7 linked regions of the Homo sapiens genome follow. The protein of the gene in region 1 interacts with the protein of each later gene in a biochemical or structural test. Each region holds a gene or a part of one and is shown in the gene's direction. Other genes may lie near its edges.

What was found.
Region 2: the proteins of STX5 (region 1) and NAPA form a complex in vitro, tested with the Homo sapiens proteins (one study listed by BioGRID).
Region 3: the proteins of STX5 (region 1) and SNAP25 form a complex in vitro, tested with the Homo sapiens proteins (one study listed by BioGRID).
Region 4: the proteins of STX5 (region 1) and GOSR1 form a complex in vitro, tested with the Homo sapiens proteins (one study listed by BioGRID).
Region 5: the proteins of STX5 (region 1) and SNAP23 form a complex in vitro, tested with the Homo sapiens proteins (one study listed by BioGRID).
Region 6: the proteins of STX5 (region 1) and USO1 form a complex in vitro, tested with the Homo sapiens proteins (2 studies listed by BioGRID).
Region 7: the proteins of STX5 (region 1) and VAPB form a complex in vitro, tested with the Homo sapiens proteins (one study listed by BioGRID).

Annotation. Positions count from the first base shown.
Region 1 is NC_000011.10:62,808,052-62,811,551, reverse strand, and holds part of STX5 (syntaxin-5), read left to right. Parts: intron 1-3,500. UniProt on the Homo sapiens protein: Mediates endoplasmic reticulum to Golgi transport.
Region 2 is NC_000019.10:47,498,064-47,501,563, reverse strand, and holds part of NAPA (alpha-soluble NSF attachment protein), read left to right. Parts: exon of another isoform or gene 1-107; intron 108-814; coding exon 815-931; intron 932-3,500. UniProt on the Homo sapiens protein: Required for vesicular transport between the endoplasmic reticulum and the Golgi apparatus. Together with GNA12 promotes CDH5 localization to plasma membrane.
Region 3 is NC_000020.11:10,295,330-10,298,829, forward strand, and holds part of SNAP25 (synaptosomal-associated protein 25), read left to right. Parts: intron 1-1,595; coding exon 1,596-1,721; coding exon of another isoform or gene 1,722-1,725; intron 1,726-3,500.
Region 4 is NC_000017.11:30,487,408-30,490,907, forward strand, and holds part of GOSR1 (Golgi SNAP receptor complex member 1), read left to right. Parts: intron 1-2,718; coding exon 2,719-2,810; intron 2,811-3,500. UniProt on the Homo sapiens protein: Involved in transport from the ER to the Golgi apparatus as well as in intra-Golgi transport. It belongs to a super-family of proteins called t-SNAREs or soluble NSF (N-ethylmaleimide-sensitive factor) attachment protein receptor.
Region 5 is NC_000015.10:42,502,134-42,505,633, forward strand, and holds part of SNAP23 (synaptosomal-associated protein 23), read left to right. Parts: intron 1-3,500. UniProt on the Homo sapiens protein: Essential component of the high affinity receptor for the general membrane fusion machinery and an important regulator of transport vesicle docking and fusion.
Region 6 is NC_000004.12:75,808,077-75,811,576, forward strand, and holds part of USO1 (general vesicular transport factor p115), read left to right. Parts: intron 1-876; coding exon 877-975; intron 976-2,355; coding exon 2,356-2,463; intron 2,464-3,500. UniProt on the Homo sapiens protein: General vesicular transport factor required for intercisternal transport in the Golgi stack; it is required for transcytotic fusion and/or subsequent binding of the vesicles to the target membrane.
Region 7 is NC_000020.11:58,395,729-58,399,228, forward strand, and holds part of VAPB (vesicle-associated membrane protein-associated protein B/C), read left to right. Parts: intron 1-3,500. UniProt on the Homo sapiens protein: Endoplasmic reticulum (ER)-anchored protein that mediates the formation of contact sites between the ER and endosomes via interaction with FFAT motif-containing proteins such as STARD3 or WDR44.

The DNA of each region.
Region 1 (3,500 bases):
AAGGAGAAGCTGTTCCATGTGAGGAAAAAACAGCACAGAAATGAGAAAGAACTTGGTAGATACAGGAGTGCAGAATTATTCAGCATGGCTGGGGGAGTGGTGAGAGGCAAGGCCAGGTCACAGATAACCTGTGTGTCACAGCAAGAAATTTGGTGTCAGGGAGAGAACATAAGAAGAAGCAAGCGGATTGATGCTGGGTGAGAATTAGGTTTGTTCTGGGTGTGCTGAGTGCCTCAGACTTCATGGGACAGCTAAATGACAGAGTTTAGTAGGCATTTCATGTTCTGATGTTTGGAAGAGAAGGCAGTGCTAGAGGTAAGGACTTAGGACAGTGGCCTCTTGGTGAAACCCTGGGCATAGACCACCCAGAGACTGGGTAAAGTGAAAAAAAGGTCAGGACAGATCCCCCATGGAGTCAGGGGGTATGTAGAGAAGGGAAGAATCTGGCCAGACTGAGGAGGAAGGTTGAGGAAGATGAGAGAAGAAAGCAGAGAGAGAAATGTGTCCTTAGAACTTGGGATAGAAGAATTTTAAGGAGTGGTTATTTCTCCTTGCTCCTGAGAAAGAAAGTTCGAGGTAAGGATGTGTTTGAGTCAGGAGGGGCTTGAATTAATTGGATCAGTGCCAGTATTTTCAGTGGAATGGCTCAGTAGCAATTTTACAGTATGTTGGAGCATAAAAGAAATAAGGAAGTAGAATTTATGGGCAACCATATACAAAATAAATTTATGAAAGGATGCCATCTTTAAAATAGGTGTAGACATTCATATGCTTCCTCCCTGCATGCCAGTGGATCTGGGTTTCAGCACTTGCTCTAGAAACCACTGATTAAGTCTGAAGTTTTTTGGGATGCAGATTCTTGGGCCCCAACCTAGAATTTCTGGTTGTGACACTTGAGAATTTTTATATTTGAGAATTCAACAGGTGATTCTTATTTTTCCTAAGGTGTGAAAACCACTGATCTAATGTTGCTCAGTCATTTTCCTTTTCACCTCATAAAATATTCAAACTACAGAAAAGTTGGGAGGATAGCACAATAAACACTCATATTCCCTTCACCTGTAGTCACTAACTTTTTTTGTTTTCATATTTGTTTTTTTCTTTTCTTTTGAGACAAGGTGACACTCTGTCACTCAGGCTATAGTGCAGTAGCGCAATAATGGCTCACTGCAGCCTCAAACTCCTGGGCACAAGTGATCCCCCCACCTCAGCCTCCCCAGTAGCTGGGATAACAGGTACATGCCACCATGTCCAGCTAATTTTTAAATTTTTTTGTAGAGACAGAGTCTCCTATATTCCCCAGGCTGTTCTTGAACTCCTGAACTCAAGCAATCCAGCCACCTTGGCTTCCCAAAGTGCTGGGATTACAGGCGTTGGCCAGATCTGGCCACCAATTGTTAACATTTTGTCACTTTTTTTCTTTTTCTTTCTTTTTTTTTTTTTTTTTTGAGATGGAGTCTTGCTCTGTCACCCAGGTTGGAGTGCAGTGGTGCGAGATCTCAGCTCACTGCAATCTCCGCCTCCCGGGTTCAAGTGGTTCTCCTGCCTCAGCCTCCTGAGTAGCTGGGGTTACAGGTGCACGTCACCACATCCAGCTAATTTTTGTATTTTTAGTAGAGACAGGTTTTCACTATGTTGGTCAGGCGGGTCTCAAACCCCTGAACTTGTGATCCGCCCACCTCAGCCTCCCAGAGTGCTGGGATTATCGGCGTGAGCCACCACATTCAGCCTTTCCCCTCTTTCTTTTGCCGAATTATTTGAAAGTAGGTGCAAATTTCATGCTGTTTTATTCCTAGATACTACAGCATGCTAATAATAAGGCATTCTCCTGAACAGCCATAATGTCTTTTTTTTTTTTTTTTTTTTTTTTTTTTTTTTGAGACAGAGTCTTGCTCTGTTTCCCAGGCTGGAGTGCAATGGTGCGATCTCCACTCACTGCAAGCTCTGCCTCCCAGGTTCACACCATTCTCCTGCCTCAGCCTCCTGAGTAGCTGGGACTACAGGCGCCCGCCACCACGCCTGGCTAATTTTTTGTATTTTTAGTAGAGACGGGGTTTCACCGTGTTAGCCAGGATGGTCTCCATCTCCTGACCTCGTGATGCACCCACCTCGGCCTCCCAAAGTGCTGGGATTACAGGTGTGAGCCACCACGCCCTGCCCATAATGTCATTTTCAAACTAAGAAAATTAACAGTTCTCCAACATGATCCAGTAATCAGCCCATGTTCAAGTTTCCCCATCTGATTTTTTTTTTTTTTTTTTTTTGAGACGGAGTCTCGCTCTGTCACCCAGGCTGGAGTGCAGTGGCACGATCTCGGCTCACTGCAAGCTCCACCTCCTGGGTTCAAGCCATTCTCCTGCCTCAGCCTCCCGAATAGCCGGGACTACAGGTGCCCGCCACCATGCCCGGCTAATTTTTTGTATTTTTAGTAGAGACAGTGTTTCACCATGTTAGCCTGAATGGTCTCAATCTCCTGACTTCGTGATCGGCCTGCCTCGGCCTCCCAAAGTGCTGGGATTACAGGTGTGAGCCACCATGTCCGGCCCCCATTTGATATTTAAAACAAAAGTTTTTATCTTTTTTCTTTCAATTTAAGACCCAGGAAGATTCACATTTTGTATTTGATGTGTGTCTTCAGTGGGCCTTTTGTTTTATTTTTCATGACATCAACTTGTTTTGTTCAATGTTAAATTAAATCTAACACTGATTAAATTAGTGCTGCGATGATTACATTAGTAGGCACTTGATGAGGTTATCCCTTTTATTGCTGATGTCAATTTAATCACTTGTTCAAGGTGCTAACTATCAGATTAAGCACACTCATCCCTTGGTATTGTGGGGCATTGGCTCCAAGAGCCCCAGAGGAAACCAAAATCCATGCATCCGCAAGTCCCATAAAATCTTGTCATATTTGCATGTAATCTACTCACATCCTCCAATATACTTATTTATTATTATTTTTTTAGTAGAGACAAGTGTCTTACCATGTTGTTCAAGCTGGTCTCCAACTCCTAGGCTCAAGTGATCCTCCTGCCTGGGCCTACCAAAGTGCTGGGATTACAGCCTGGCCAAAACTAGGGTCCATATACCTTTTTTTTTGGTGTTTTTTTTTTTTTTTCCCCCTGAGGCAGTCTTGCTATGTCACCCATGCTGGAGTGCAGTGGCACAATCTCACTGCAGCATCAAGCTCCTCAACCTCCTGGGTTCAAGCTATCCTCCCACCTCAGCCTCCCGAGTAGCTGGGACTGTAGGGTCACACCAGCACACCCAGCTAATTTTTGTATTTTTTGCAGAGATGGGGTTTTGCCATGTTGCCTAGGCTGGTCTCAAACTCGTGAGCTCAAGCCATCTGCCCACCTCAGCCTCCCAAAGTGCTGGGATTACTGGCCTGAGCCACCATGGTTGGCCATAGAGCTTTTTTTATCCCCTGATTTCCTGTCCGTGTCATTATGTTTTCCTTTTTCACTCAGAACCATGATTTCCTGACTGCAATGGTCTGT
Region 2 (3,500 bases), on another chromosome or scaffold:
CTGTTTCCCTCTCTGGACATGCAGCTCCTGGAGGGAGCCGGCTCTGTGTTGTCCGACCCCAACTCCATGAGCCTCACAATTCATGCAAGTGCCTTGTCCATGGGGATCTGCAGTGAAGGGAACAGAATGTGAACAGAGGCAGAGGAGTTGGGAGAATCAGGAAGAGCTTTGGGGAGCTGTGGAAAAAGAAACAGGACTTGGAAAGGGGAGTAGATGGGAAGATGTTATGTGGTTTAATCTCAGTTGCCCCTTGCTTCCCAAAATACCCCTCCGAAGCCACCCCATGATTTCAGCCTGTACTTTGCCTTCTAGTGGTGGTTCTGGGCCCTGTGCTTCGAGGCTCCCCTGGGGAGGACTGCCCAGGCCGGGAGGTGCAGGAGGCCACCTCACTCTGTTTTATATCCTTTCCAACTCAGCTCTATCTGCCTTCTCCTTGGATCTTTAGAAGTGGTGGCCCTGGAAATGCTGGCATAGCTGGGATTAGGGACATGGTGTTTTACCTGGGCTTACCCTGGCTCTCTTTCCATATACCTGGGGCTCAGGGCCTTCCCCCGAGGCAGCTTCCTGCCGCCCTCAGAGACTGTCAGGTGGGCCACCAGGAGCCTCAGCGCAGGAGCCAGCAGACCTGAGCGCAGGAGCCAGGAGACCTGAGTTCTAGGCCTCGGTCTGGGCTCGCTCAGGTCACCCTCGTCCTGTCTTGGGGACTCTTTCCGCATTCTCGAGAGCCCGACCCACCTCCCAGGGCAGTGTCTCTGTGGCTTCATAAAGTGTGGAGCCCCACTGAGGCCAGGACTGCCCTTCTCTTCTGTTCCAGCTGCTGGAAACGCGTTCTGCCAGGCTGCACAGCTGCACCTGCAGCTCCAGAGCAAGCACGACGCAGCCACCTGCTTTGTGGACGCTGGCAACGCATTCAAGAAAGCCGACCCCCAAGGTGAGGGCCTCTGCGGGCCACACGGGCTGGCTGTCCGGAGCGCCATCCTAGCACCCTGCATTGATTCCTCAGGTTTCCTGGCGGCTCTGGTTTTTCCAGTGGCCGACATGTGATAGGCTGGCAGGGGCGTGCCTGAGGCAGAGTGAGCGTTGACTTTAGAACTGGCTCTCTTCCTTCCAGTTGGCATTCGCGCCCTGCTCAAGTCTCCGCCCCCCTATCTACCGTGTCGGTGGTGTCGGTGCAGCTGATCACCCCTTCCCAATCCCGGAGCATTTGGGAGTGGGAGTTCCATTGCAGACCCACCGCCTGCCGGGGAGAGAGGAAAATCTGTTCTGTTGTCAGAATTAACATGCAGAAGGGAGCGGTGTGGGGGGCGGGGAGGATTCTGAGACCAGCCAGGTAGGAGTTGCTGCCGAAAAAGGAGCGGAAATTAGCCCAACCTGGCTTCCCTACATCCTGGGGAGGAATTAGAGAGAACAGAGCCCGAGATGTAGTTGCCAGAGAACAAATTACTTAAAATGAGAGCGTGCTAGGGACAGAAACCCAGTTTGGGGCTGACTCATGGTGAGAAAACAGTTTTGTCCCCCTGGGTGCCTCCCGAAGAGGAGGTCCAGCCCAGTGTTTGCTTGCATGTGGCGGGAATTTTAATTTATTTTTTAAAATGTTGGTGCCAGGTACAGGTTGCTAATTAGAAAGCACAGGCAGTTTTTAAAAATGACCATCTATTGTCACTGTCATCTCAGGGGAATGGAAAATATATGAATCTTTAAAAAATAAAAAGCAGCTATATAATCTTGGAATAAAAGCCTGTCCTTCCCAAGAGAAGACAGGTTTGCAGCAGTGCAGGGAGCTTCCTCCATGGATCAGTGAGCACTGGTTCACATGGCGTGTTTGAGAACTGCTGGCATACCCCTTTGTCGTGATCTGACGTGTTAGTTCCCAGATGAGGATGAATTTGTGTTGACCAGTAGCTCTTCTCTGTCCTTAGACTGACCAGTTGCTCCTCAGCAGCTGGGCATCTCATGCGTTGGCCTCAGTGGTCACATGGTGGGGCTCAGGCCTGGCAAGAGGCCGAGGAGCAGCCTTGTAACTGGGTGGGCCATGGGGCTTGCCTGGCTGGTAGCACTGGGCCACAGCAGGCTGCGTGGTTGATGCAGTGATGACCCAGGGAGACCCTGGGTTGGTTTTAAGCTTGATTCACCACATGGAGTCTCCATGCCTTCCATTAAACTGCCCCGCCAAGCCTTTCCTTCTGCTCCCTGGGAAACTGGTTGGCCTAGAGGTGCTGTCTTAGCATCTGTGACGTTCAGCTGCTGCCCCATCTGGAGTGACTGGAAGGACACTCTGGGGCAACACTGAGCGCCAGGCTGCCGAACAGAGAGTGCCATTTGCTCTTTCAGCAGACCCCTCACTTCCTGCAGACAGGCCCTGCCTGGCAGTGGGATATGGTGGGGTCCCTCCCCTGCGTTTGATCTGAGCTTTTCTAGCTCTCCAGCGAGACTCTGCAGGGTGTGGGCCTGGAGTCTGGATGTGGCCCCTCCCTGGCCTTAGGAAGCTCAGAAGGTGGCTGAGGACTCCGACCGGTAGGAAAGTATAAAGATGATGTTACATCCAGGGCACAGAGGCCAACTTGCACAGAGCTGAGGCTGGGGGCGTGAATTTGGCTATGGGAGATCTTTCAAGGAAGAAAGGGGGCAGTTCTGAAAGGAGAGCCTCACCTGGGTAGAGCTGAGAGCAGGTGCCGTGTCCAGAGCCCTGGGGACGTGGTGTTGAGCAGGGAAGGGTGTTAGTGCAGCTTCCAGAGCTACAGCCTAAAGATACGCACGCCAGCCATGACTCCCAGTGGGGCAAGGGGCACATTGGCATCAAGGGCAGTGGCTGCTTTGTGTCTGAGGCTAGTCAGGCCTCACACAAGGCCAGGTGCAGTGGCTCATGCCTGTAATTTCAGTGCTTTGGGAGGCTGAGGCAGGAGGATCGCTCAAGCCCAGGAGTTCAAGACCAGTCTGGACAACATAGTGAGATCCTGTCCCCAAAAAAAAGCCTCACAGAGAATGTCATGTAGCAACTGTGTGTGGCTCAGCAGCGCAGGTGGTGGGTGGTCTGGGAGGACCCTGCCTCCCCTGTGATCCTGGGCAAGTCAGTCTTTTGGGCCTCTGTTTCCTCGTCTGTTAAAGCAGAGACTGCTGTGAGATGATGCAGTCATGCCCAGCGCGGCACCTGGTGTGTGATAAACTTCCAGTCAGGACACCCTTGGCTTTCATCAGTCCAGGGGCCCCTGCCTGCCCTGGGCTCCCCACAGCCTCTGCCCTTGGCCGGGTGCCTTGTGAGACAGCGCTGGAGGCCCGATTTGGAACCTTGCCTGGCTTCCCCAAGCAGGTGGCCGGTACCCTGGGGCCGTCCTCATCACTGGTCTCCTCAGCAGCCTAGAAGGCCTCTGTCTTGGGTCAGCACTTCTAGGGCTTCCTCCAGGACTCCCTCCAGAAGGACCTGCCCCCAAGTGGCAGCTGGAGTGTGCCTGAGGCCCGACTGGGCTCCCGAATTCCTCTCCCTCTCGCAGAGGGTGGCCTGC
Region 3 (3,500 bases), on another chromosome or scaffold:
CATAGCAGAAAACATCACAAAGTCCATATAACTTCTTTTAATCTGAGGAGGGAGGAGATGGGGAGTTGGAAAAATAAAAATTAAAAAAGCCAGACTCTAAGCCCTATTAAATTTAGTTTGGGGATCTCGTTTCATTGAATGGGTCCATGGCCCTTTGGTGCAATTAATTTTGACTGCACTAAGGCCTGCGGCATTATAGACTTGATTGTGGGAGTTGCTGAAATTCCATTGGTACAATTTTCCAGTTTGTCTCTAGGGTTGCTTGGCCCCCAGTCTGCAAGTATTAGAGCCAGTTTTAATAGATGGCTGTGGTCCTCTGGCGAAAGAAGAAGATAAAATGTTAAATTCTGGTGTCTTACAAAAAAAAATGTGAAAATGGGACCAAAGAATGTCTCTTGTTTTTGGACTAAAAAGCATATGGTTTCTACTATGTAAAGAACCTAAAAACATCTTTGATTGCCTTTAATTACAACACTCACCAAAATATGCTGCACATGTTTCTATTGGGCACAATAGGTATGCCTGGATTTTAAGTCTTTTCTCCAAGGCAGCTCAGTGAAATACAGCCCATGGAGACCATACCAGCATTAAACCACTCTCCTCCATTACAACCCCAGGATAGTTTAAACTAGGAGTTTGTAAGCACTCTCTGCCCTGCCCCTCAGCCCAACAAAGAAGCTACTGAACCTGCGTTTCAAATCCTCATGAAGGCTATTACTGTCCTGCTAGTGCCTTTTTCGAGAATGGTCAACTTCTGGAGTAGTTTGGCTTAAATGAGAATGCTTCACTTTCTACTCATGCCTGTAGCTGGTGCATGAAGAAGACGTAGAGGGGTTTCCCTTTTTGGTGCTAGATGGCTTGTTCTCTCTTCTCTTTTCCTGCATTCATTTCACTATGCTTCTTTTACTTTTTGTCTCTGTGGACAAAGGTTTGTACATCAACTCTGGATGTATGGTGACTGTTTGGAAGTACCGATATATTATCTAATTCAAATCACTCTAGAGGCAATGCAAAGACCATCACTCTTGGCCAACCACCAATCCTTTATGTCCTTCATGGAGCTTTGGAAATGTTAGTTCCACACGTGTTGGGAAAAAAAAATATTCCACAGGGATCTTTGCATGATGGTGTGTAAAAACTTGGTTGAGGATGTTTTCTTGATGACAGTGTGTTGCTGTGGTGTGATGTGCACACTCTACTTGGCAGTCTTGTTTTGTGTCTGTCTGCCAGTATGTTTTTCTCTGTTTTATGTCTCCAAATATAATCACATCACTAAAATAGAATTAAATGTCCTCCAGCTACCTTAATCCTTGTCCAAAATCCAAACTAAACCACAAAACAAACCAAAACAAGAACAACCTTGTGGGCAAAGATTGCAGTCCATTGCAATGGATTCGATTGGAAGTGAAATGTTGAGTAGCTGAGGCATGGTGGTGGCCAACTGTTTGGGTCTGGATTATGATATATCGGTATTATCTAATGCCTCGACTTAAAACTCATTCGCTTGGTTCGATTCTTCGCTTGAAGAAGTGACAATTGTTGAGAGCTTGCTCCTCCACCCCTGTGCCTTGTCACTCACCCTCTCTTTTGCATAGGCTTAAATCAAGTGATGCTTACAAAAAAGCCTGGGGCAATAATCAGGACGGAGTGGTGGCCAGCCAGCCTGCTCGTGTAGTGGACGAACGGGAGCAGATGGCCATCAGTGGCGGCTTCATCCGCAGGTGAGCCTCATGCAGCATACACTGTAGCAGTTCTCTATTGTCAAGTACAAACAACTCCAAAACTGAGTGGTTTTCTAAAAAACAACCATTTTATTGCTCATTAATCTACATACCTGCTAAGTGTTCTTTTCTAAGCCTTTCCTGGACCTTGCCTGGGTGGGGTGATCCAAGATGGCCCCATTCACTTGTCTGGTGGTTGGCTGGGGCTGTTGGTGGGGCATGTCTGTTCTTCTCCATGTGGCCTCTTCAGCAAGAGAGCCCAGGTTCCTTACATGGTGGTAGCAGTATTCCAAGGGGGCAAGCCTCAGTGCACTTACCAAACCTTTGCTTGCTTACCTTGTATTTGCCGGTTTCATTAGACAAAGCAAGTCACATGACCACATCCAGACTCAATGTGGCAGTAGACAGGCATCACATTCCATGAGTTTAATTGAATAGAGCTTATAAAAGAGACTACTTACAGAGGGGTGGGCAGGACTAATAACAAGGAATGGTGAAGCACTTCTGAGCTAGCAATAGCAGGAAGTTGTTACCACCATAGTCCTGGGGGACAGGAGAAGGAATGATTATCAGAACCCAGCAATAGTTACGACTGTGGGCAAGGAACTATCAGTAGAGAAATACAGCCACTACCAAAGCTAACAGGGAGTGAAAGAGGGAAATAAATGCTGTAGCCCCTCACTCCTCTTGCCCTGCAGTTTCATTGGCCATTAGCCAAAGCCTACTGAAAGCCAGAGGGTAAGAGGAGCTGGGTGATATAGTCATGAGGTCAGCTCCTGAGAGCACAGAGCAAAGAAGGTCCAAGAACGGATTTGGAGTGAAAATAGAGAATAATGAGCTTCTTATTAATGATTTATTTTGAAACCTAGAATCAAAAGCCAATTTAAATATCTATTTTTAAAAGTTCAAATTATGACTCAGGGGCATTTCCTTTAAAAAAAAAAAAAACTCAAGTTACACACATCAGCCAATTCAGAACTCAGCTCTCCCTTTGCTCCCAGGGAAAGTAGCCCAAGGGTTCTCAAGCCTGGCTGTACATTAGAATCACCAGGGGAGACTTTTTTTTCTTTTACTACCAGTGTTTGGGCCCAATCCACACCAATTGAACCAGAATCTCTTGAAGTGAGACACAAGCACCTGTGGCCCATTAAAGCTCCTCAGGTGATTCTGATATGCACTCAGGGCCAAGCACCATTGAACTAGAAGTATCTCTTAGCTATTGATGATCATTTAAATAAACTTCTTCCCTACAGGAAAAAGCCAGAAAGTTCTCCTTTAGTTTTTTAATTTTCTCTGCCCTGGGCTGCTTTTGAAACCATAATGAGCCAGTCTGCATTGGGAGTTACCATGGGGGAAGGATTTTAACCCTTCTGAATATTTTTTAGCTCAATACCATATATACTAGGGAAATTCTGAAATAAGTACCTCCTTAACTTTCAAGTTGGACTGTGAAAAAATGTAATGTGTTTTGTGAGCCAGCTCCTTCCTCCCATTCCCATTCCACTCAACCTGAAACAATACTCTTTTGTCACAGTTTCACAGTTTTTGACTCTGAAATCACCTATGCACCATGCCACTAAAAAACCCATGTTATTAACATATGAGTAAATAAAAATCATCTTGAACAAGTAGCTCTCCTTGGAGTTCCTGGGAGCAAGCAGGGTTAAGGGGCAAACTGTAATTATCATTACTCTTCCCATTGGTGTCAATCCCAAGTGTGAAAAGAGATGAGCACAGAGACTCTGACTTAGCACAATAAGCTTTTTATTGTATTCTTAA
Region 4 (3,500 bases), on another chromosome or scaffold:
ACTGGAAACCATAACGAATGGCTAATTTGCTTACTACACAGAGATATAATAGAAATAAGAAAAAGACAGTAGGAAAATGGACAAAGGATATAAAATTGCTTACAAAAAAATGAATGGCCAAAACTATAAAAACATTTTCAGCAGTATTTCCAAATAAAAATACAGAAATCTAAAAGAGGTGATTTTTCACATGTCAGATTAGCAAATGTTGAAACATTTATAACCCATTATTGGCAAGAGTAAAAATTTAAAAAGGGTACTCATATATTGCTGGTGGGAACATAAATTGATGTAATGTTTATAGAAGGCAGTTTAGCACTACCAGAATTTAAATGAATGTGAGATTCTTTGATCCAGTTATTCTTTTTTTTTTTTCTTGAGACGGAGTCTCGCTCTGTTGTCCAGGCTGGAGTATTGGAGTGCAATGGTGCGATCTCGGCTCACTGCAGCCTCCACGTCCTGGGTTCAAGCGATTCTTCTGCCTCGGCCTCCCGAGTAGCAGGAACTACAGGTGTGCGCCACCACGCCCAGCTAATTTTTGTATTTTTAGTAGAGATGGGGTTTCATCATATTGATCAAGCTGGTCTTGAACTCCTGATGTCATGATCCACCCACCTCGGCCTCCCAAAGTGCTGGGATTACAGGCATGAGCCACCGTACCCAGCCCTGATCCAATTATTCTATTGCTAGTCATTTACTCCTTTTTTTTTTTTTTAAGCTCTGTTGAACTTAATAGACATTTACTCTTTAAATATACTTTTTTTTTTTTTTTTTTGAGACAGAGTCTCACTCTGTCACCCAGGCTGGAGTGCAGTGGCGCGGTCTTGGCTCACTGCAACCTCTGCCTCCCGGGTTCACACCATTCTCCTGCCTCAGCCTCCCGAGTAGCTGGGACTCCAGGCGCTCGCCACCATGCCCGGCTATTTTTTTGTATTTTTAGTAGAGATGGGGTTTCACCGTGTTAGCCAGGATGGTCTCCATCTCCTGACCTCATGATCCGCCTGCCTTGGCCTCCCAAAGTGTTGGGATTACAGGCGTGAGCCACTGCGCCCAGCCTAAATATAGTTTTTTTTAAAATAAAAGAGTTCAGTTTAAAAAATATATGTAAGAATGTTTATTGGCAGTATTTTTTTTTTTTTTTTTTGAAACAGAGTCTCGCTCTGTTGCCTAGGCTGGAGTGCTGTGGTATGATCTCAACTCACTGTAACCTCTGCCTCCCAAGTTCAAGTGATTCTCCTGCCTCAAACTCCTGAGCAAAGTAGCTGGGACTACAGGTGCGTTCCACCACACCGGCTAAGTTTTGTGTTTTTAGTAGAGACGGGGTTTCGCCATGTTGGCCAAGCTGGTCTCGAACTCCTGACCTCTAGTGATCCGCCCACCTCAGCCTCCCAAAGTGCTGGGATTACAGGCATGAGCCACCCTGCCTAGTCTTGCAGTATTTTTAATAGCAAACAAAATGAAAACAACTAATGTGTTTATCAGTAGGGAATTTATTAAATTGTGATAGTCATAAGATAATATTCTATGCAGCTATTAAAAAGAATGATGTAGATTTCTTTTTCCTAATATGGAAAGATTGCTTGATACTTTATGAAGTACAAAAAGCAAGGTGTACATCAGAATGTATATTATGACTTACTTGGCAAAGTGAAAGAAATAATAGATAAGCTTGTATATGTAAAAACATATTTCCTGGCCAGGTGCAGTGGCTCACGCCTGTAATCCCAGCATTTTGGGAGGCCAGTGTGGGTGGAACTGTTGAGGTCAGGAGTTCAAGACCAGCCTGGCCAACATGGTGAAACTCCATCTCTATTAAAAATACAAAAATTAGCTGGATGTAGTGGCACGCTCCTATAGTCCCAGTACTAGGGAGGCCAAGGCACTAGAATCGCTTGAACCCAGGAAGTGGTGTTTGCAGTGAGCTGAGATGGCACCACTATACTCCAGCCTGAGCGACAGAGCAAGACTCTTGTCTCCAAAAAAAAAGAAAATAATAATTTCCTGGAAGAAAATACAAAATGATGGTAACAGTTATGAGGTATGGAGCAGAATGTTTTGTTTTCCTTTGTTTCACCTTTATTTCTTTTGGTGCTCTTTTAATATTCTCCTCCATGTTTATGTGTTACTTTTGTTTTTTAAAAGGTCAACAGGGACTCTGGGAGACAAGATTTTGATTTTCTTCTTTATCTACATCTCTGAATTTATGAAAAGTAATGAAGTACTTTTAACAGTGGTACAAAAATAGTAGAAAATGTTTAAAGATTATTTTGTTCCTTATAATTCTCTTGATTCTGTTCTTTTTTGTTTAGGAATTAAATTTTTTGTGAGAGCTCCAAAATGATGAAATTTGAAAATAAGCTCTATTAAGTATACTACTAAGTAAAAAGAGCCTCTCAAGTTTTCTCCTAGACTATTTGAAGTTATTTTATCTCAGAATTTTTTTCTTCTTAATTCTGCCTCGTAAGACAGAGTACTAGGAGGTACAAAGGATAGTGATTTAATGGCACTGTTTCCCTAGCACTGAATTATTTTCACTTGAAAGAAGTTGGTCACTCTTCAGGAAAGTAATTTTAAAGTTATTTTTACCTTTGGTTAATTTGATTTCTTAAATAGCAGTTTTCTTGACAAATTTACAGTGTGATGACGATACATAACTGGTTCAGTGAGATGAAAATCCATAATTAGCTTCTGTTGAGACTGGATGTTGATTTATTACAGGATTATACACATGAATTCCATAAAACCAAAGCAAACTTTATGGCAATACGGGAAAGGGAGAATCTTATGGGATCAGTACGAAAAGATATTGAGTAAGTTACTTTTTATATTATTTTGTAGAATATTTATTCAGATTTGGCTTTAGGATATGTTCACGGTTAATTGCAAATTGAGTGGCAGAACCGTGGTTGAGATTTTAGGGTTTCCAATTCCCATTTCACTGTCTTTTTAACATTGCTGCTACAATGTCATCCTAATCTACTTTTCCATTTTTATCTCATGCTTCCTCTTACTTTATCATTGGCTCCTGCCAACCTTGACTTTCCTGTCTTAATTCAAAGTCCAGCTTAGGTGGTTCTTCATGGTTCTCTGATCTCTTACCTCCCACCCTAAGAATTATAATGTTACTTTTATGATCCTCTGCAGATGTGTCAAAGAAAAAAAAATTCTTTAATTGTAACATTATCAGTAACTGAAGCTCCCTATGTTTCTCTTCCTGATTATCACCTATCCCCTGGCCCTCTCCCTTGTCCCAACAGTTACATATTACAAACAGTAATATGTACAAACTCACTCATAGCCTTATGTTAAATTATTTAAGGACTCCCAACATTCTCATACTGATCTCAATCTATAATTTTAAATATTTGTTTTTTTCTTCTGTCCCTTCACCTCACCTTTAATGATCTATTCTAGCATTTCATAGCATTTTTGGAAATTTTTTTACAACTGAACACTACTGACAAAGTTAAGTCCCATGGGCGTCTCATTGAAGCTGAAGA
Region 5 (3,500 bases), on another chromosome or scaffold:
TCTCCTGCCTCAGCCTCCTGAGTAGCTGGGACTACAGGCGCCCACTACCACGCCCGGCTAATTTTCTGTTTTTTAGTAGAGACGGTTTCACCTTGTTAGCCAGGATGGTCTCGATCTCCTGACCTCGTGATCCGCCTGCCTCAGCCTCCCAAAGTGCTGGGATTACAGGCATGAGCCACTGCGCCCGGCAGAGTGCTTATATTCGCTGTCTGTAGCTTCTGACTCTTAATATCGGAATATTTGAAAAACTAACCAGAAAGCATCAAAGTGGCTGGGTGTGGTGTCTCACGCCTTCTGGCATTTTGGGAGTCCAAGACAGAAGGATTGCTTGAGGCCAGGAGTTCAAGACCAGCCTGGGCAACATAGTGAGCCACCCTATATCTACCTAAATAAATAAATAAATAAATAAAGCATCTAAGTGAACTTAATCAGAGCTAAACTATGTGGATGGTTTCGGTGAATATTTCATTCAGGCAGGGTGAATCCTTGCCAATTAATCTCACCCCGTACTTGGTATCTCCCTGGCAGATACCACACTTATGCCTGCCACATTGTCTCTTCCTGGGTAGATTGCCAGCTTCTGGCTCTTGAGCCCCGTTCTTATCTTTCACATAGAACGTCCCCTTTCTGTTCACATAACCATTCTCATTGATAGGGTTAATAAAATTGATTACAATCAAACCTACATCTACCTCCCCAGTATTACTCCTGGGTCACTTAGAGTAGAATTGTGGAAGTTCCTAATTTGACAGGGACTTGAAGACCAGGCGTTGGACATCAAGCAATTAAGTTACCATAGGTGCTTCTGTAAAACTGAAGTTTAATTTTTTTTGTAATTAGAGTCAGGGTCTTGCTATGTTGCCCAGGTTACATTTAAACTCCTGGGCTCAGGTGATCCTCCTGCCTCAGCTTCCTGAGTAGCTGGGACTATAGGCCTGAAAATGTAATTTTGGTTTTCTTTTTGGTTCCTGATTTTTAGTGGGACTTTCCCATTTGTTAATATGATTTCTGTCTTGAATCTTGTGCTTCAGTGTACTTTGAAACCAAGCTGATTTTTGTTTGTTTTGTTTTTTCGTGTTGTTTTTTAAGATGGAGTCTCGCTCTGTCGCTGAGGCTGGAGTGCAGCGGTGCGATCTCGGCTAACTGCAACCTCCGCCTCCCGGGTTCAAGTGATTCTCCTGCCTTAGCCTCCTGAGTAGCTGGGATTACAGGTGCCCGCCACCACGCCTGGCTAATTTTTTTTTTTTTTTTTTTGAGATGGTGTCTCACTCCGTTGCCCAGGCTGGAGTACAGTGGCACAATCTCGACTCACTGCAACCTCTGCCTCCTGGGTTCAAGTGATTTTCCTGCCTCAGCCTCCCAAGTAGCTAGGATTACAGGCACATGCCACCACGCCCAGCTAATTTTTGTATTTTTAGTAGAGACGGGGTTTTGCCGTGTTGGCCAGGCTGGTCTCGAACCCATGACCTCAAGTGATCTGCCCTCCTCAGCCTCCCAAAGTGCTAGGATTACAGGCGTGAGCCACCATACCCGGCCTTTGGTATTTTTTAGTAGAGACGGGGTTTTTCCATGTTGGCCAGTCTGGTCTCAAACTCCTGACCTCAGGTGATCCACCCACCTTGGCCTCCCAAAGTGCTGGGATTACAAATGTGAGCCACTGCGCCTGGCCTGAAACCAAGCTGTTTAGTAGATACGATTCTGTGATGTACTTAGTATATTTGCATTTGAGTTATAGACTTTGTATGGTAAAAAGAAAAGAGTTTTTAAAAAGAGAAAAAAATATGTATGTATATTTGCATAGTTTTGGGGCCTATATATAAAAATGGTTAAAGTTGTTTGTGTAGAAGGAGATAGAAAGGAAAGCCCAGAGAGGAAGTAAAAGGAGGAAGCCATCCTTAACATAAAGGAGACCCTTGCCAGGCAAAGTGGCTCATACATGTAATCCCAGCACTTTGGGAGGCTGAGCCAGGAGCATCACTTGAGGCCAGGAGTTTGAGACCAGCCTGGGCAACATAGTGAGACCCTGCCTCTACAAAAAAAAAAATAATAATATAATAAAAGGGCCAGGTGTAGTGGTGGGCACCTGTAATCCCAGCTACTCGGGAGACTGGGGAAGGAGAATCACTTGAACCCTGGGGCAGAGGTTGCAGTGACCTAAGATTGCACCACTGCACTCCAGCCTGGGCAACAGAGCGAGACTCCGTCTCAAATAAAATAAAGTAAAATAAAATAAAATAAAAAGTGAGACTCTGTCTCAAAAAAAAAGTTGTATATAGCCTATACTTTATATCATCAACTTTAATATTCAAATTTAGCCTTGCAGATGGAACTATTAATATTTAGTAGCTATTACTTTCAGCTACATTTACATAAATGTGACTCATATTCAACATTGTTACTTTCCTTTTGTTTTGCCTACTATTTATTTCCACTTCAGTAAAAATATTAATATAATGGCTAACATTGAACACCGGCCATGTGCAAGGCATTGTACTAAGTACTTTGTGTAGATCATCTCTTTTTAATCTTCACAAAAAAAACAAAACTATAAAATAGAATGTTATCCTTGTTTTACAAATACAGAAACCGAGTTTTAGTGGTGTTAGGTAATTAACTTGGGGTCACACAACAAATACATTGTGAGGCTGGAATTTATATGCTGGAATTCCCACTCACCCACTATGCTATCCTGCTATAAACAGAAGTTTCCTCTTGCTGCGGATGCATTGGTTACCATGGACGTAGACTTCTATCAAGCCAAAGAGAATGCTGAACTTAAAAGTACAGTAATAAACCCTTTGAGTGTAACTCATTGAGGAGCTTTATTGTGATTAATTTTCAGAGAAGGAATAAGGCAGGAAACTAATTTGGTAGAATATTTTAGCTGCAAAATCCTTGTTTACCAGTATAAAAAGAATTATCTTATAAAATCATTCTTTGCAAGACCCTGTGAAATTGATGGTGATTTTTTTTTTCTTTTTTTTTCAGACAGTCTTGCTCTGTTGCCCAGGCTGGAGTGCAGTGAGTCTTGGCTCACTGCAGCCTCTGCCTCCCAGGCTCAAGCCACAGACGTGCACTACTGCACTCGGCTAATTTTTGTGTTTTCTTTTTAGTAGAGCTGGGGTTTCACCGTATTGGGCAGTCTGGTCTTGAACTACTGGCCTCAAGTGATCCGCCCACCTCTGCCTCCCACAGTGCTGGGATTACAGGCATGAGCCACCACGCCTGGCCTGATGGTGATTTAAAGTGCTCTTTCTTCATTACTTCTTGAGTAGCTCACCAGTTTTACAAATGAAGCCACATGGATCTTCCAAGGCCTTATTTAAATTCCAGGGCCTTTTTTCTGTGTATTTCTTTCCAAGAAGCTCATTTACTTTTCCTTTCTTCTTTTCTTCTCTTTTCTTTTACTTCCTTTCTGCTTGCATTTTTTTTTTTTTTTTTTGAGACGGAGTCTTGCTGTTGCCCAGGCTGAAGTACAGTGGCATGATCTCGGCTCACTG
Region 6 (3,500 bases), on another chromosome or scaffold:
TCAGTGTCTCCAGACATTACCAAATGTCCTCGGGGATGGGGGGATATGGGGAGAAATCACTCCTGCTGAGAGCCATTGTTATAATTGCCTTTCTTTTCCTGTACTTTTTTTGGGGGAGGAGAAGGTGAGAAGTTTGGAAATTCAACATTAATAAAAACTTTCAATTAATACCCTGGTTTTCATTATAGTACTACTGCTTTCATCTGTGTTTGGTGGTCCCTAGTCTAAAGATGTCCTGTTTTGCCCAGCCACATAATAAACCTCAAGTCTTCATCCAGGAAAGGAGGAACGGTTGCCTGATGCCTAAGATTGAGACAGGGATCTGATGATCTATTTCTTAAATAGTCTTTTAACCAGGCCTGCAGTTTTTAACCTCATTTTTATCTGTACTTCCAGTGGTATCTAATGATACCAGTTCCTAACCTTTCTGGTAGTTAATGCATTCATTGTAAGTCAGGTACTATCTTAACTTTCTCAGTGGTCATCCTAGCTTTCAGCTTTCTCAGGTGTGCTGATTTAGTTATCACTGTTACTTGCTTTCTCAAAATTCCCCAATTATATTGCTCTCTTCTCTTACTGTTCTTGTTTTTGTAGGTTTCTTCCTCTCTCCCTCCCATCCTTCCTTTCTTTCTTCCTTCTCCCCTCCCTTCCTGTCTTTTATGATTTTTTTTTTTTGCATGGGATTTCAGGAGGGAGCAGAGGTAAATGAATGTGTTGAATTTTCCATCTTGAACCCAAAATTCAAGAATAGTTCTTTAGAGTTAGATTTTAAAAGTAGGAGGTTGTAAATCATTTTTTTAAATGTCTCCCTGTAAATATTTCCTTGATGAATTTAATACCATTTAATGTTATGACTCAACTATTTTTGTCTCTTAGGAACTGGCAACTTTAAAGTCTCAGTTAAACTCACAATCTGTGGAGATCACCAAACTACAGACAGAAAAGCAGGAACTGTTACAGAAAACAGAAGCGTTTGTAAGTATTTTCTCTTTTTTCTCTGGAAGGTAATAAAGACAAGGTTGATGTATTATTTCTTAGCCACAATTAAAAAGAAACAAATTCATCAGATAGCACCTTCTCTTTAGATTACTTACTAGCCGGTATTCTAGTAACATAGGCTTCATGTTCATGGTGACAGTCGTTTTATAGTCAGTCTCACCAGATTAGTTTATTCAGTTACTTAATAGTTTATTTTGCTGGTATTACATTCTATTTCTGTCCCTTCAGTCCAAGCTGGCAGTTTTTCTGCTGTCATAAAATATTCAGAAACCGTTGTTGTTTTCTCCAGAACATTCCTTCTCATACTTTTGCAATATAGGTAGACTGAGAATTTTCCAAATCTTCTAATTCTGATTCTTTTTTGCTTAGCAATTTCTTCTTCAATTTATCTCTCTTCTCTCACATTTAACTTTAAGCAACAAGGAGAAACCAGGCTGCACTCCAACACTTTGCTTAGAAACCTCAGTAAAATATCCAAATTCATTATTTACAAGTTCTGCTGTCCACAAAACACTGCAACACTATTTGGCCAAGTTATTTGCCACTTTATAACAAGGATTGCCTTTCCTCCGATTCCCAGTAACATGTTCCTAGTTTTCATCTGAGACCTCACCAAAAGCACCTTTAACATTCATATTTCTGCCAGCATTCTTCTTCTCACTATGACCATGAAGCTTCTTTCCAACTCCGCTCTTTTCTTTCTGAGCTCTCACCAGAATCACTTAATGTCCATATCTCTAGCAACAGTCTCATCAAGGTAATGCAGGCTTTGTCTACCATGCACCTCTCTTACAGCCTCTACTCATTACACAGTTCCAAAGCTACTTCCACATTTTTAGATATTTGTTGTGTCACTACCCGACTTCCTAGTATTTTAGAAAAAAGACAAGGAAAGACTGAAAAACTGTTATTCAGGAGTGTCTCCTCTAGCACTTGAGAAAAGATTTGCATTTCACTAATAATGATATTTGGCTCAATTTATCTACCTATCTAGGGTGGTAGTATGGACTTATAGGAAATTTATGAAGGAAAGGCTTTGAAAAATATTCTGTGTTTATTAAATGCTGGGTTACAGTTACATTAGAGCTGCCTTGCTGATTACTTTTCTGGGCTTACCTACCTTGAGGCACCTTAGCCCAGCCTTCCTCGTACTCTTATGAGATTTGATGCTCTTCCATGTGGGAACAGCTCATCTGACAGTGGAGAGCACTTTGTTGCACATAAATACATAAGGAATTATATTTTCTGTTAGTGAAAGTAAAATATCAAAATGGCAAAAAAATTAAATAACCCTTTGGGAGTTCATATTGATTGTAATGTTTAAGAGACATCTTTTTTTCCAATTTCTAATTTCAGGCAAAATCAGTTGAGGTACAAGGAGAGACCGAGACTATAATAGCCACCAAAACTACTGATGTAGAAGGAAGACTGTCAGCATTATTACAAGAGACCAAAGAGTTAAAGGTTTGTTTTTGGTGCAACTTTTATTTACTGCATATGATATGAAATGAACTCTAGGAAATTTTATATATCTTTCAAATTCTTAGATTTATGAAGAAAGCTAATGATGTGTAATTTTATCTCACAACATTTTCACTCCTATATTGATGATTTAAGATGGCACAAATGAAAATTTTTTTTGTTTTGGGTTTTTTTGTTTTGTTTTGTTTTTTTGAGATGGAGTTTCGCTCTGTCACCAGACTGGAGTACAGTGGCGCGATCTCGGCTCACCACAACCTCTGCCTCCCAGGTTCAAGCAATTCTCCCGCCTCAACCTACTGAGTAGCTGGGACTACAGGCGTGCACCACCACACCCAGCTAATTTTTGTATTTTTAGTACAGACAGGGTTTCACCACGTTGGCCAGGATGGTCTCCATCTCTTGACCTCGTGATCCACCTGCCTTGGCCTCCCAAAGTGCTGGAATGCTGGAATTACAGGTGTGAGCTGCCGCACCCAGCCACAAATGAAGCTTTTAAAATACTATTTCAAATAATGATAATATGTAAGATAAGCATACATATGCATGTACTATAAAAGTAAAATTTATTGAAAATATTTTTGTTTTCTTTCTTTCTTTTTCTTTTTTTTTTTGAGAGAGAGTCTCAATTTTGTGTTCCAGGCTGGATGGAGTGCAGTGGCATGATCTCAGCTCACTGCAGCCTCCACCTCCCAGATTCAAGCGATTCTCCTGCCTCAGCCTCCTGAGTAGCTGGGATTTCAGGCACCTGCCAACATGCTCAGCTAATTTTTGTACTTTTAGTAGAGACGAGGATTCGCCATGTTGGCCAGGCTGGTCTCAAACTCCTGACCTCAGGTGATCTGCCCGCATTGGCCCCCCCCAAAGTGCTGGGATTACAGGCGTGAGCCACCACACCCGGCCTGTGTTTTCTTTTTAAGATCAACATCTAATCACAATAACAAAACAAGGAGTACAAATTTAGCTAATACACAAGCCACATGTAGGCTTTCCATAAGCCGTGGAACATAGGCACATTAAAT
Region 7 (3,500 bases), on another chromosome or scaffold:
TCAGGCTGTTATCAGCATAGCATATCCAGGATTGCTTTGGCCTTGCTCAGTGGGTATGTGCGTTCTTTGAAGTTCTTACCTGACAGATGTGGGCAGCTGGCTTTACACAAGGAAGAGTTGTTTAAAGAGCTTTGGTATGGAAACAAAGTTACTAAACTTGACAGTCACTTGAGGATTATTTAAAAAACAAACAAAATAACTGAATGTGGTAAAATACTATCTCTAGAATATTTTTCAAACTGTTAAATGCATCCTTTTAACAGAAGCTGTTGATGTCTACAAACACTGTCTTTGTAGACAAAGACAAACCCCCCTTGCATGGGGGTTTGGGGGTTGGGAAGCAGTTGAGAAAATGGCATAGTCCCGTGAGAAAACCTTGGAATACTTTCTTTTAATAACATTTTTTTATTGCATAGAACTGTAAAGCTACAGAAATGCTTTCTTGGAGTTTTCCTTCATCCTTTCAGAAGGGCTAATATTGACCTTTGGTTAGCATGTTAGTATTTTCACCTGTGTCAAGTGATGTCTTCACGCTTTTGGGGGGTGTGTGTGTGCATGCCCACCTCGTGTTGTGTAGGGCACATTGGCCGATACCTATAATGTGTTTCAATTACTACATTGTTGGCATTTCAGTAGGCTCCTTCAGCCTTTGCCCATCTGGGAAGTGGAGACTAGGGCAATAAATGTTTTAGGGGTAGATTGAGACTGCAGTGTTTTTCATCTTTTAGCTTGTACTTTAAGACAATGGGATGTACCCCTAGACCATTTACCTAGATTTAAATTACTTCCTTGTGATGTGGTTTAGAGCTCTAAGTTCCTTGAGTTGTCTTGAAAGGCTGAAGGGTGCTCAGAGAATGGAGGGGAATTGAAAATGGAACCTAAGGATCTGGGAGTGGTCATATGTGTGAGTGGTGAAATGTGCCCCCCAACACCCCGTTGGGTCGGGTCTGGAGTTAAAAGCAGTGGCTGACATACATTTTGCAATATAAGGGTAAAGAAAGGTAAAGAAGGAACAAACATTTCTAGAGGATAAATGCTTTAATTCCAGAAGATAGGCCACACAGTTTAGGAACTGTGGTAAGAGGTGCTTTGCCATATTTATGTTACTGTTTAATCTGTGTAACAATCGTATGAGATGACTTAGTCAGTGGCTAGGTAACTTTCTGCTGGATGAGGCTGCACTAGTAAATGGTGGCACAGGCAAAGCCTTGTACTTTCCCTCATACCAGTATCAGCTCATTAGAGTTAACTCATAAAGGGGTTTGTTCTTGAGAGAGGGAGGCAGAGAATTTAAAACCATTAATGAAGTATTAATAGCTGTCAGGACAATTTCTTAAGAACATCAATTCATTAAGAGTTATTCTCTGAATTTTTTAGGAGGGATTTCTTGCCCTACTTTTGAAAAAGTTCAGACAGATGACTCCAAAGAATGTTTGATTTCTCTTGTGAATATTCACTTTTATATCAGATTCTGATGGTTTCTTGATTCTATATATTTAGAAAGCATTCGGCCGGGCATGGTGGCTCATGCCTGTAATCCCAGCACGTTGGGAGGCTGAGGCAGGCAGATCAACTGAGGTCAGGAGTTCGAGACCAGCCTGACCAACATGGAGAAACCCCATCTCTACTAAAAATACAAAATTAGCCGGGCATGGTAGCGCATGCCTGTAATCCCAGCTACTTGGGAGGCTGAGGCAGGAGAATCGCTTGAACCTGGAAGACGGAGGTTGCGGTGAGCCGAGATCCCGCCATCGCACTCCAGCCTGGGCAACAAGAGCAAAACTCTGTCTCAAAAAAAAAAAAAAACAAAACACATTAACTTGTGGGTAATTTGTCCTTCTGCTATCCAGTCTTTGGAAGGCAGGGCAAAGCTTGTGTGTGGTAGAGATTTCATAGGCTTGCAGGTTTGTAGAGTGGGAATTCAAGAAGTTGTAAAGGGCACTTATTAAGATAGGAATGTCTAAAATAAATGATCTTTAGCAGTGCCACCTTAAACTTTGTAAGTGTTGCTACAAAACCTTTAGTTCTGCATGCTCCTGACCAGCCATTGCCTTGGACAGAGAAACAAATAAGGGTGAGTTAATAAACTAGAGACTTGTCTCAATTGTTCAAAGAGGTAAACTTAAGGTGATTAAAAAGTGCTGTTTTATTCTGTATGAGATACACTTTGGGAAGTCGTCATTTTCCAAGACGATGATACGCCAGGCATACGAATTGGATCAGAAAGGATTTAGAGACATGCATGGATATAATGATCTCTTACAGATGTTCCTCACCTTACAGCGGAGTTACATCCTCAGAAACCCATTGTCAGTTGAAAATATTATAAGTTGAAAACATATTAGATACAGCTTAACCTACCCAACATCATAGCCTTGTCTACCTTAAACATACTCAGAACCCTTAAGTTAGCCTCCAGTTGCACAAAGTCATCTAGCACAAAGCCTATTGTATGATAAAGTATTGAATATCTCATGTACTGCATATTACTAGCCTGGGAAGAGATCAAAATTCAAAATATGTCAAAATTATGATGGCTTCACACCATTGTAAAATTGAAAAATCGCAAGTCAAACCAATCGGGGATTGTCTGTACATAAGAGATGATTGTCCAAATTAGAGCTGTTTTGGGTTTCTGCCCTTTGCAGATCCTTTGAGGTTTTCTTTATAGACAGATGACTCCTTCTGGGGGAATTGAGCGTGACTCTGATTGAGATTTGGTTCAGTTACCACATACTGAAAGCTTCCTGTGGGCCAGGCACTAGGTTGCACTGGGGACCTGGGAGGAAGGCCTAGCCCTTAAAGTTTCCAGCCTCTAGGTATTGGGAGACGAGGGAAAATGGGGACAAGATATTTATGGCCTGTCCTTATTGAGAGCTTAGAAAAAGCTGTGTTAATTCTGCTTTGGGTGTTCGATCTCACAGGGAAGATGGCATTTGAGATATGTGACTTGGCGAGCTTACACTGTGCGCTTGCCATTTTTCTAAGCGTTCATTTATTTAATTCTTAATGCAAGCCTAGGAAGTGGGTACAGTTATGATCCTGAAGTTATTAACCCAAGTTATGAACCTGACTGAGGGTTGGAGCTGGGATTTGAATCAAGATCTGTCTGATTGCAAAGGCTATGGCTTTTTTTTTTTTTGTCGTCATGCTGGCTGTGTTTCTTCCCTTAAAAGATAAGTGGGAGTGTGCCCTTGGCTTTCTTATTTATTATGTTAGGAAGATGAGAGGAGGAGTGAGACTAGAGAAAGAGGCTTGAAAGAGAAATGGGATAGAAAAATAAAGGAAAAGGCTGGGCACAGTGGCTCACACCTGTAATCCCAGCACTTTGGGAGTCTGAGGTGGGTGGATCACCTGAGGTCAGGAGTTCGAGACCAGCGTGACCAACATAGTGAAACCCCATCTCTACTAAAAATACAAAAGTTAGCCGGGCGTGGTGGTGCATGCCTGTAATCCAGGTACTGGGGAGGCTGAGGCAGGAGAACCGCTTCAGCTGGGGA